2 separate regions of the Homo sapiens genome follow, and region 2 is linked to region 1. The links come from fine-mapping of genetic effects on gene expression. Tissue or cell type: whole blood. Region 1 holds a variant in brackets; the other region holds the start of a gene. All regions are shown on one strand. Distances are between the middles of the regions.

What was found. PIP is the estimated chance that this variant, and not a neighbour inherited with it, causes the effect.
Region 2: CD320 starts here. The variant in region 1 is fine-mapped to the expression of CD320 in whole blood (INTERVAL, PIP 0.91).

The regions. Positions count from the first base shown.
Region 1 is chr19:8,339,198-8,344,834 of GRCh38, forward strand. KANK3 (KN motif and ankyrin repeat domains 3) reads right to left here and starts at 4,065. Exons shown (of 11, transcript NM_198471.3): 1 at 4,028-4,065. RefSeq lists enhancers at 1,073-1,573, 3,508-4,299. The variant A/C (reference allele first, on the strand shown) is at 3,444.
Region 2 is chr19:8,305,513-8,311,149 of GRCh38, forward strand. CD320 (CD320 molecule) reads right to left here and starts at 2,846. Exons shown (of 5, transcript NM_016579.4): 1 at 2,637-2,846. The coding sequence starts at 2,778. It also overlaps a transcript of NDUFA7 not described here. RefSeq lists enhancers at 1,609-2,349, 2,336-2,465, 2,350-3,089, 3,145-3,674 and silencers at 2,546-2,635, 2,610-2,948.

The DNA of each region.
Region 1 (5,637 bases):
TATAATAATGTGATATTTAACAAGGACAAATATTGAATCCAGAACTTTGGTTCAAAAAGCACAGGGTGAAATCTCAGCACTCTGGGAAGCCAAAGCAGAAGGATCGCTTGAGCCTAGGAGTCAAGACCCACCTGCGCAACATAGCGAGACCCTATCTCTTTTTGTTTTTTTTTTTTTTTGAGACAGAATTTCCCTCTTGTTGCCCAGGCTAGAGTGCAGTGGCACAATCTTGGCTCACTGCAACCTCTGCCTCCTGGGTTCAAGTGATTCTCCTGCCTCAGCCTCCTGAGTAGCTGGGATTACAGCCACTGCTACTATACCTGGCTAATTTTTTGTATTTTTAGTAGAGATAGGGTTTCATCATGTTGGCCAGGCTGGTCTCGAACTCCTGACCTCAGGTGATCCACCCACCTCGGCATCCCAAAGTGCTGGGATTACAGGCATGAGCCAAGGTGCCTGGCCACTATCTCTTTTGTTTGTTTGTTTTTAAATAGTGAAACCACCAAGCACAGTGGCTCACAAGCCATTGCTCTCCAGCCTGGGCAACAAGAGCGAAGCTCTGTCTCTAAATAAATAAATAAAATAGCGAAACCCCATCTCTACAAAAAACACAAAAATTAGCTGGATGTGTTGGCATGCACCTGTAGTCCCAGCTACTCAAGAAGCTGAGGCAGGAGTATCTCTTGAGTCCAGGAGATGCAGGCTGCAGTGAGTTATGATCATGCCACTGCATTCCAGCCTGGTTGACAGAGCAAGACCTTGTCTCAAAAAAAAAAAAAAAAAAAAAGAAAAGAAAAGAAAAGAAAAGCACAGGAACATGGAGTGGGAAAGATGGGCTTTGGAAAGCCCACATGGAAAACCTTCAGGGAGGGGAAAGTGCCTACGGTGTGCCCTTCCTGATTAAATGTCATCGCCATAGCTGGACACAATGGTGCATGCCTGTAGTCCCAGCTACTCAGGAGGCTGAGGCAGGAGAATCGCTTGAACCTGGGAGGCAGAGGTTGCAGTGAGCTGAGATCATGCCACTGCACTCCAGCCTGGGGGACAGAGCCAGACTCCGTCTCAAAAAAAAAAAACCATATATATATATATATACACACACACACACACACACACACACACAGCCCCCATACAACACTTTGCATACTGCAAAGTAGTATTATTATTCATATTTTACAGATGGAGAAACTGAGGCACAGAACAATTAAATCAGTTGCCTGTGGGAAGCACCCTCAGATTGGGCTCTGCCCATCTGCGGAACCCTTGTCAGCAGGTCCCTGCCACAGCTTCTGACTGCCCTTTACCTGTCCAGTCCTCCACTGACAGGCATCTGCCAAACCCACTTCATCCTCTCCCTGGGCCACGGCCCGTCTGTGCTAACCACATGGCAACACTCCCAGCCACCCCTTCTGGCTTCTCGAATCCCTGGGACCACCTGTGTGCCTGATGCTATGAAGCACTGAGCACCCACCAGCCCTCCTGACTCATTACCCTACTCCACCGCTGGGGAAACCGTAACTCCATTTCCCACTTCTGTCTGGCCGAGGTCCCTGACCTCTCCCTTCCCACTCCAAGGCCAGGCAGGGGGCCTCTTCCAGTCCCCAAGCAGCTGTTTCCCGTCCCTTCACACCAGCTGCAAGGGGTGGATCAACAGGCCAGCGGGTCATCGCAGAGGACAGCCAATGCCGTTCATCACTTGTTTTCAGGAAATTGCCAGGGAAGAACTGGGTTGTGGAAAAAGTCCAGATCAAGGGTTGGGGGGTCTGGGTCTACTTCTCACACAGCTGGCCGTATGACGCAATGGGGTCAGCGTCCTCCTCCGGTGACCTGGTCACACCCAAATCCCAGGCCCTGGGATCTCAGAAGACAGCTGTGGGCCATTCCTAAGACCTAAACTAGCTGAAGCAGTTGGATCCAGAGGCTGGGCTAAGAAAGGAATGGATCCCTCCAGAATGTCAAATAATAACAACGCTTTTGATATTTACTATGGGCCAGCCTCTAGTCTAAGGAATTTATGGATATTTACTTTTTTTTTTTTTTTTTTTAGAGGCAATGTCTCGCTCACTCTGTCACCCAGGCTGGAGTCAGTGGCTCGATCATAGCTCACTGTGGCCTTGAACCCCTGAGCTCAAGTGATCCGCCTCAGCCTCACAAATAGCTGAGACTACAGGAATGGACCTCTACACCTGGCTAATTCAGGCTAATATTTTAAATTTTTTGGTTTTTTGTTTTAGATGGAGTCATGCTCTGTCGCCCAGGCTGGAGTGCAGTGGCACAATCTCAGCTCACTGCAATCTCCGCCTCCCGGGTTCAAGTGATTCTCCTGCCTCAGCCTCCCAAGCAGCTGGGATTACAGGTGTGCACCACCATGCCTGGCTAATTTTTGTATTTTTAGTAGAGACGGAGTTTCACCATGTTGGCCAGGCTGGTCTCAAACCAGGCGTGAGCCGTGCCCGGCCTAATTTTATTTTTTGTAGATACAGGTGTCTTGCTATATTGCCCAGGCTGGCCTCCAACTCCTGGGCTCAAGCAATCTTCCCAGTTCAGCCTCCCAGAGTGCTGGGATTACAAGCATGAGCTACTGCACCTGACCTTGACTTATTTTTTAAAATCCTAGCTAAATCCACTGAGGTTGGATTTCCTATGATCATTGTCCCTTCCCCTATTGTACAGATGGAGAAACTGAGACACAGAACAGTTTAGTGTCCTGCCTGGGTCCTGTCATAAACAGGCAGAGGCAGGTTTTAAACCCAGGCAGGTCTTCCAGAGTCCTTGCTTTGGCCACTACACTTGAATGCTTTCTTTTATTTTTATTTTTGAGACGGAGTCTCTGTCACCCAGGCTGGAGTGCAGTGGCAGGATCTCGGCTCACTGCAACCTCTGAGCCCAGGGTTCAAGCGACTCTCCTGCCTCAGCATCCTGAGTAGCTGGGATTACAGGCACTTGCCACCACAGCTGGCTAATTTTTGAATTTTTAGTAGAGACGGGTTTCATCATGTTGGTCAGTCTGGTCTCAAACTCCTGACCTCAAGAGATCAGCCCTACTTGACCTCCCAAAGTGCTGGGATAACAGGCATGAACCACCAAGGAGCCTCAGGGGGCTTGTCCCTCCCAGCCTACACCTGTGTCAGACTCTGATTGGGGGCGGAGGTGCCCACCACCTCTGCGGCTTCAGGGGCTGGGGCCTCACTAAGTGGGGCGTTTAGCTGCCTTCCCTCTCCTCCGCTCCCTGCCCTGACTGTCACAGCTAGATCCGGATTCTGTGCCTGAGACCCCCTCATTAGGCCGTCAGAGCCGACGCCACACGCCCCCTCTCCCGCCCCAGGGACTATTTTGGGACGCAGAGCTGTGATCACCAAACCGGAGTGGTGGGGGCCACGGCAGGCCAGTGAGGATCCCAGTCCTGGGGAGAGGGCGCCTTCCAGGAGGCCCTGAGTACTGGC[A/C]GCCCCTGATGTCTGCTGGGACTCTCAGACTCTTGAGGTGGGTGGGTGGGGGACCGGTGGCGGCAGGAAGGTGGGTGTTAAAGTCATCATCACCCGTCCACCCCCAGGTCGTCCTAGCCGCACAGAGACAGAGCAGTTTCCTACAGGAAGCGCCGCCGGGCGGTTCCATCCGCTACCCATTGTCTGCGGGTCCGGGGGCCGTGCGTCCCTCCCCAAAACACCATTTCCGTGACACGCTCCCACACCCAGCCCAGCGCGAGGGGCTGGCTGGGGTCCCCAGGCCGTCCCGGGAAAGGGTCCCAGGGCCGGTTGTGGCATTAGGGAGCGAACGAGCCCCGCAGTGAGCTCCCGAAGGGCGAGAGGGGGGCAAGCCCACGCCTCCAGAGCCCCCCACTCTGCTCGCTACCCACCTGGGACTTCCAATGTGGGAGGGGTCCCGGCCAGAGGACACGACGCCCGCCCCGTCGCAGCGGGCAGAGCCCTCAGTGGGGCTGGAAACGCAGCGCAGCGCCGGGTCCCGGTGCGTCCCCGAATCCACCCACCCAGGGGTCCCCCATCCGTGTCCCCGCAAGCTGGCAATTTACCTGAAGCCGCAGCCCCAGCCGCGCCCGCACCCGAGCCCGCCCCCTCGAAGTCCGGGGACTGATTATCAAGGCCTTCGCCCTAACTGACGGCCACGCCAGCCAACCAGCACCCGAGGCTCTCCAAGCCGCCCAGTGGGACGGTGGGGTGGGACAGGCAGGCGGGGCCTGGAATGTAGGGGTGGTGACTGAGGGCGGGCCCTGGAGTGACGGTCGCCGAGCGCTGGCTGGCGGCATTTCTGCACCAGCAGAGGTCAAGTCTCTGCCCAGCGCCGGGCCAAGGAGCTTGGATTTGATCCACAGGCACGAGGGAGCCATGGGAGAACTATGAGTAGAAGAGTAACCCGGTGGGATTTCTATAACTGGCACTTATTTCGCAGTGCCTGGGTGAAGTATCAGGTCCCGGATCTTCCCCACCGCAGGGCCTCTGCACATGCTGTTCCACCTACCTGAAATGCTTTCCCTTGCACCTGTACACGTAGGTACTTTTTGAGGCTCCCCTACTGTTTTTTGTTTTGTTTTGTTTTTGTTTTTTGAGACGGAGTCCCAGGCTGGAGTGCAGTGACACTCACTGCAACCTCCGCCTCCTGGGTTCAAGCAATTCTCCTGCCTCAGCCTCCCGAGTAGCTGGGATTACAGACACACACCACCACGTCCAGCTAATATTTGTATTTTTAGTAGAGATGGGGTTTCACCATGTTGGCCGGGCTGGTCTGGAACTCCTGACCTCAAGTGATCCGCCCGCCTCAGCCTCCCAAAGTGTTGGGATTACAGGCGTGAGCCACCGCGCCCGGCCTTCCCTACTTTCTGAGGTTCAGCTTTTGTGTTGCTGCCCCCTAAATTCCTGACATAGCCCCTCCCCAGTTAGTATTTTTCTCATCACTCTATTGTATTAACCTAATAGCTACTTTTACTATCTGGAAAAAAAAAAAAAAGCAGACTCTGTTATTGGCAGGCGCAGTGACTCACGCCTGTAAATCCAGTATTTAGGGAGGCATAGATGGGAGGATAGCTTGAGCCAGGAGTTGAGACCAGCCTGGGCAACATAGCAAGACCTAGTTCTCAAAACAAAAGAAAACAACAAAACAAAAAGACAAAAACGAAACACTCAGTTATTTATTTGGTTTATTTTTTAATTTAATTTAATTTTTTTTTAGACAGAGTCTCGCTCTGTCCCAGGCTGGAGTGCAGTGGTGCGATCTTGGCTCACTGCAACCTCTGCCTCCTGGGGTTCAAGCGATTCTCCTGCCTCAGCCTTCTAAGTAGCTGGGATTACAGGCGCACACCACCACGCCCAGCTAATTTTTGTATTTTTAGTAGAGACAGGGTTTCACCATGTTGCCCAGGCTGGTCTCGAACTCCTGACCTCAGGTGATCCGCCCACCTCAGCCTCCCAAAGTGCTGGGATTACAGGCGTGAGCCACCATGCCTGGCTGGTTATTTATTGGTTTACCTGCTTGCCATCTCACTAAAGTGTCGGCACCAAGGCCAGGTGGGGTGGCTCATGCCTGTAATCCTAGCACCTCCTGAGGCTGAGGTGGGAGGATCTTTTGAGCCCAGCAGCTCAAGACCAGCCTGGGCAACAGAGTGAGACTCTGTCTCTAAATTAAGTG
Region 2 (5,637 bases), 34 kb before region 1:
GCCTGGCCTACATGGAAACCCCGTCTCTGTTAAAAATACAAAAATTAGCCGGGCGTGGTAGTGCACGCCTGTAATGCCAGCTACTCGGGAGGCTGAAGCATGAGAATCGCTTAAACCTGGGAGATGGAGGTTGCAATGAACCGAAATCATACTGCTGCACTCCAGCCTGGGCGACAGAACGAGACTCCGTCACCACAAAAAAGAAAAAAAAAAGAGCTGGTAGCGGAGTTGGGCTTCGAACTCAGGTCTCGCTGATCCCAGAGTCTTCACCAGGCTCCTCATAGCGAGATGATCTGCCAGGGAGACCTCCAAACTCAGTGGTTAAAGAGACTGAGGGACGGGCCATTTTTCCACATGCCCTGGGTCAGGCTCCCGGGCTCAGGTCAGCAGGGAGGGTCTATCTCCTCTGCGTAGCAAAAGGGAAACTGAGGCAGTGGGTGGGAAACTGAGGCACTGGGTAGAAAATCTGCTCAGTCACCAAGTCCTGTTGCCCCGCCTCCTGAATTCCTCCCAGACCTATCACTCTCCCCATCCTAAATGTGTCAGCTCCTCACCAGAGCCCCAGGCCCCAGGCCCCAAGGTCCATTAGGACACCAGAGACTTGCCTTTCCCTCTCTCCTCCCTACACCCTGTGTTTTCCCCTCAATTTTCAGATCTCAGCTGATTTCCTGGGAGGGTTCTCATGTCCCTCTTGGAGACCTAGGAAGCACTGCCTCCCATGTCTAACAACTGTCCTTAAAGCCCTGGTCATGCCTGTCCACCCACAGACTGGACATTCTGTGGAGGTCAGGGCTGTGACCTGGCCGCCTAAACCCAGGGCAGTGCCTGATTATAAGTGGACACAGGTCACATAAGGGTCCAAGCTGGGTCCAGAGAAGATCCCGGCTGTCCTAGATTCTGAGCAGGGAAGCTCAGCTGCTTGCCGACCTGGAGGGGCACGGAGGGGCCCGCAACCTGGGCCAAGGGACAGAGGAAGGGAGTGGCCTTTACGGCTTCCTCCTGGGTGCGGCCAGGGGAGGTGGCAAATCCGCCACCCTGGCTTAGCTTCACTCTGCCAAGGCCTTTAACCTCTTCCACCTTTACCCACCAGCCATGAGCCTCCAACCCCCCACTCCCCACTGCCAGCCCCTCCTCGGCCTTCAGGCCTAATTGCACCTACTTGCCACAGGGTCCCTGAGCTCTATGGATCCCAGAAGAGCTGTGGACAAACCGGTGCCTGCTTCCTTCCCCGCCCCCGGGAGATCTGGCAGCCTCCAGGTGTGGCTCTCCACCCAGGCGCAGACTTCCACAGCCCTGACACCTCTGACCTCCCTTCGCTGGACTGCGGGAGTGTGTATCCCTCTGCAAAGTGGACAGTAGAGCACAGCAGTCCCCGCCTCATAGGGTGTAAGCCTGACAGGAGTTACAGTGACCAGTGACTTTCTCTCCTGGCCTCAGTTTCCTCACCTGTAAACGGGGTATGCTGGGAATCCCTACCTCAACATCCTGAGAAAAAAGAGACTGTGTATAGAGTTTTGTCCTGTAATCCCAGCACTTTGGGAGGCTGAGGCGGACAGAACACTTGAGGTCAGGAGTTCGAGACCAGTCTGGCCAACATGGTGAAACCCCATCTCTACTAAAAATACAAAAATTAGCCGGGCATGGTGACGGTGCCTGTAGTCCCAAGCTACTCGGGAGGCTGAGGCATGAGAATTGCTTAAACCCGGGAGGCGGAGGGTGCAGTGAGCCAACATTGCACTGCACTCCAGCCAGGGCGACAGAGGGAGACTCAAAAAAAAAAAAACAAAAACTTTTGTACTTGGTTAACGTGAACGCTGCCTCCTTAAAAAAAAACAAACAAAAAAAAACCCAGGAACATTTAACGTGAATGTCAGGGACTTTGGGATGAGTCCAGGGACCTAGAAGTGCGGAATGCACAAAGGAGCTGGGAAAGTGTGTGAGCCTGAGCCCAGGGCTGCAAGTTGGGAGTGCCTGAGTGCACAGGGAGGCCACTCCAACCCTCCAGCTGCCTCTAGGGGTATCAGAGAGGGAGCCCGTCCCCACTGGCCACCAATACCTCTTAGGCCAGGGCGAACACGTCCACGGGGGTATATTCAACTTGTGACCCCAGTCTCTGCGAGAGCCTGCAGTAGCATGGGGGGGAGAGACCTCGCGTTCTCTAAGGATGGAGGACAAAGGAGGAGAGACTGGGAGGGCAGGGACGGTTGCGGAACGGTCACAAGGCCTGGGCGCGAGGGTTTGGAAGGCAAAGGTGCGAGAGGCACCAGGTGACCCGTCCTGCGTGATTAGCGGTCGGACAATCTGAGCCTGCTAAGAGCTTTCCTGACCACGCTGGTATGAAGGGCGGCTTGGAGGTGACAATGGGGGACGACAGGGCACAGCAGGTGTGGAGACGGTGTGCAGGGCCGGAGCAAAACCGTTAAAGGCAGGTGGAGACACCCTCCTCCCCTCCCCCAGCATGGGGTCTTCCTAGCACCAGTGCGCGCCTTCCCACAAGCGATGAAGTCCAAGTCCACGTGCTGGGGGAGTGTCATGAACTGACGTGCGGTGCAGCCAGTGACTAGGCGTTGTCGGTGCGCGGCGGCGGGGCGAAGCCTCGCGAGGGGTGGGAGCCCGCGCTGCGGGGCGTCACTCACCTGCGGCCTGGGCAGAGGTCGGGGTGGAAAGCGGGCTCGCGGCGGCCTCCAGGCCTAGTCCGAGGCCGAGCAGCAGCAGCAGCGCCAGGCCCAGAGCCCCTGTTCGCCACGCTCCAACCTGCGCCATCCAACCGCCGCTCATGCTGTCCCCACAGCGGCGCCGGCCACGCGCTGTCCAGACCGCTCTCTTATCCCTGCGCACGCGCACGCGCGGGGTTGGGGCGGGGCCCAAGCCCCTGAGTTCTGCGGCGCCCGCGGCTACGCGTACCGTAAATGTCAGAATAGCAGGGAAAAGAGAATTAGAGGCCCGTCCCCACTTTCCCCAGTGACCAGATCAGTTGAAAGGTATGGAGCCCGCTTGAAGTTAGAAACTTCTGGGGATGGGAAGGAATTTGTTGGTGTTCATTTGCATTATTTCCCGTTCCAAATGAGGACTGCTGCAAATGTTACTGCCTCGTGATCTTCTTTAATATGGCAGCCACGCCCCTCAGGCACTCCGCATTTCCTCCCTCATCCCACTGCTTTTGTGGCGCCGACAGGTAATTTATTTTATTTACTTATTCTGGTTTGTTGTCCGAGTCCCCATAGAATGCTAGCTACTGGAGGGCAGGGATCTTCTGTTGCTCACTGCTTTATTCTCAGGATCTGACACATAGTGCTTGACTCATAGTAGGCTCTTAGTAAACATTTGGTGAGTAAATGAATAAATGAAACGTCCATTCTCGGAGTCGGGTTGCTTGGGGGGGAAAAAGGAAAGGAAATCAATTAATTAATTAAATTTAATAATAAAGGCCGGGCGCGGTGGGTCACGTGTGTGATCCCAGCATTTTGGGAAGCAGAGGCGGGCAGATCGCTTGAGCCCAGGAGTTCGAGATCAGCCTGGGCAACACAGCAAGTCCCCGCCCGCCTCAAGAAAAAAGAAAATTAGCTGGGCATGGTGGCTCTAATTTGTAGTCCCAGCTACTCAGGAGGCTGAGGTGGGAGAATCACTTGGGGCTGCACTCCAGCGTGGGTGACAGTGAGACCCCATTTGTTAGAAAAGTTGGCCGGCGCGCTGGCTCACGCCTGTTAACCCCAGCACTTTGGGAGGCCGAGGCAGGCGGATCACGAGGTCAGGAGTTCTAAACCAGCCTGGCCAACATAGTAAAACTCCCGTCTCTACCAAAAATACAAAAATTAGCCGGGTGTGGTAACATGCTCCTGTAGTCCCAGCTACTAGGGAGGCTGAGATGGGAGAATCGCTTGAACCCGGGAGGCGGAGGTTGCAGTGCGCCGAGACCACATCATTGAACTCCAGCCTGGGTGACAGAGTGAGACTCTGTCTCAAAAAAAAAAAAAAGTTGTGGTCATAAAACTTGGTTCAGATGCCGTCAGCGGCATGCCTTGCCTAGGGTCTTGCCCTCCTTGTGGCCTCTGCACACCCTGCCTAGTCTTTCCTTCCCTCCTGACCTTTCTGAATCTGATTCATCCTTTTGCCCCAAGCAGAATCCCACCTTCTCCAGGAAGGTGTTAGCCTTTGTAGGACCCACTCTGGGACACTGGTACCTGCTGCCTGTAGCCGTGGCCTTTCCCCTTCCAGAGGGCAGGGCGGTCTCAGCACCCTCTTGGTCCACAGCTGATCTTTTTTAGCTGCTGAAGGGTCTGGGGCTGTGCCCTGGGGAAGCCATGACACTCCCCTGCGTAGGGTCACTGGGTGGCTCCTGCAGCCAGACTTGGACACCCTCCCTTTGCAGATTTCTGTCTCCTCCCCAGGAACCAGCTGCCTTCCTTCTGGGGCGAATTCATTCTTATCCCACAGCCCCAGCATAATGGGATCTGGCTCAGGGAGGCCTTTCCTGATCTGCCCTAGGTTTGCCTTCCCTGTGAGCAGCCCTTACTGTCCTCTGCCTTCCCCGTTGAGCTGCAGGGTGACCATGGTCAAGCAGGAGCCTCAGTGGGAAGGTGCTGAGGAAGGTTCATGTGAGAAGTGGCTGTGGGAGCCCTCAAGAGATGGAAGTTAGGCCAGGCGCGGTGGCTCACGCCTGTAATCCCAACACTTCGGGAGGCAGAGGTGGGCGGATCACTTGAGGTCAGGAGTTTGAGACCAGCCTGGCCAACATGGCGAAACCCCGTCTCTACTAAAAATACAAAAATTAGCTGGGCTTGTGGCAGGCGCCTGTAATCCCAGCTACTCGGGAGGCTGAGGCAAGAGAATCACTTGAACCCAGGAGGCAGAGGTTATAGTGAGCCGTGATCGCGCCATTGTACTCTAGCCTGGGCAACAAGAGCGAAACTCTGTCTCAAAAAAAAAAAAGAAGTGAGAAGTCTGTGGCTGGCCTACTGAGTGTCCGCACATACACCCCTTACCCCACCTGACTGGTCTTCACAATCAATGCTCCCCAACAGCCAGCGGTCCTGGGAGTCCAACCTCCCAGAAGGATCACCCACTCCCACCACTCTCAAGGTCAGAGCCTGGCCTTTGGGGGAAAGGGCAGTGCTGTCTCCAGGGCCTCTGCACCCAGGGACAGTGTCTGTCCCACCCCTGGAGTGCCAACAGAGTTGGGAGACTCAGCACTGACTTCACCCCAAAATCCAAGTAAGCTGGGTATTGCTTAAAATCAGGGGCCAGGCGTGGTGGCTCACACCTGTAATCCCAACACTTTGGGAGGCCAAGGCGGGCGGATCACCTGAGGTCAGGAATTTGAGACCAGCCTGGCCATCTCTACAAAAAAAAAAAAAAATTAGCGGGTATGGTGGTGCACACCCGTAGTCCCAGCTACTCGGGAGGCTGAGGCAGAATTGCTTGAGCCCAGGAGGCAGAGGTTGCAGTGACCTGAGATCGTGCCGTTGCGTTCCAGCCTGGGTGACAAGCGCGAAAACTCTGGCTCCTGCAGCCAGATTTCTATCTCCTCCCCAGGAACCAGCTGCCTTCCTTCTGGAGCTAACTCATTCTCATCCCACAGCCCCAGCATAATGGTTTCTGGCTCAGGGAGGCCTTTCCTGATCTGCCCTAGGTCTGCCT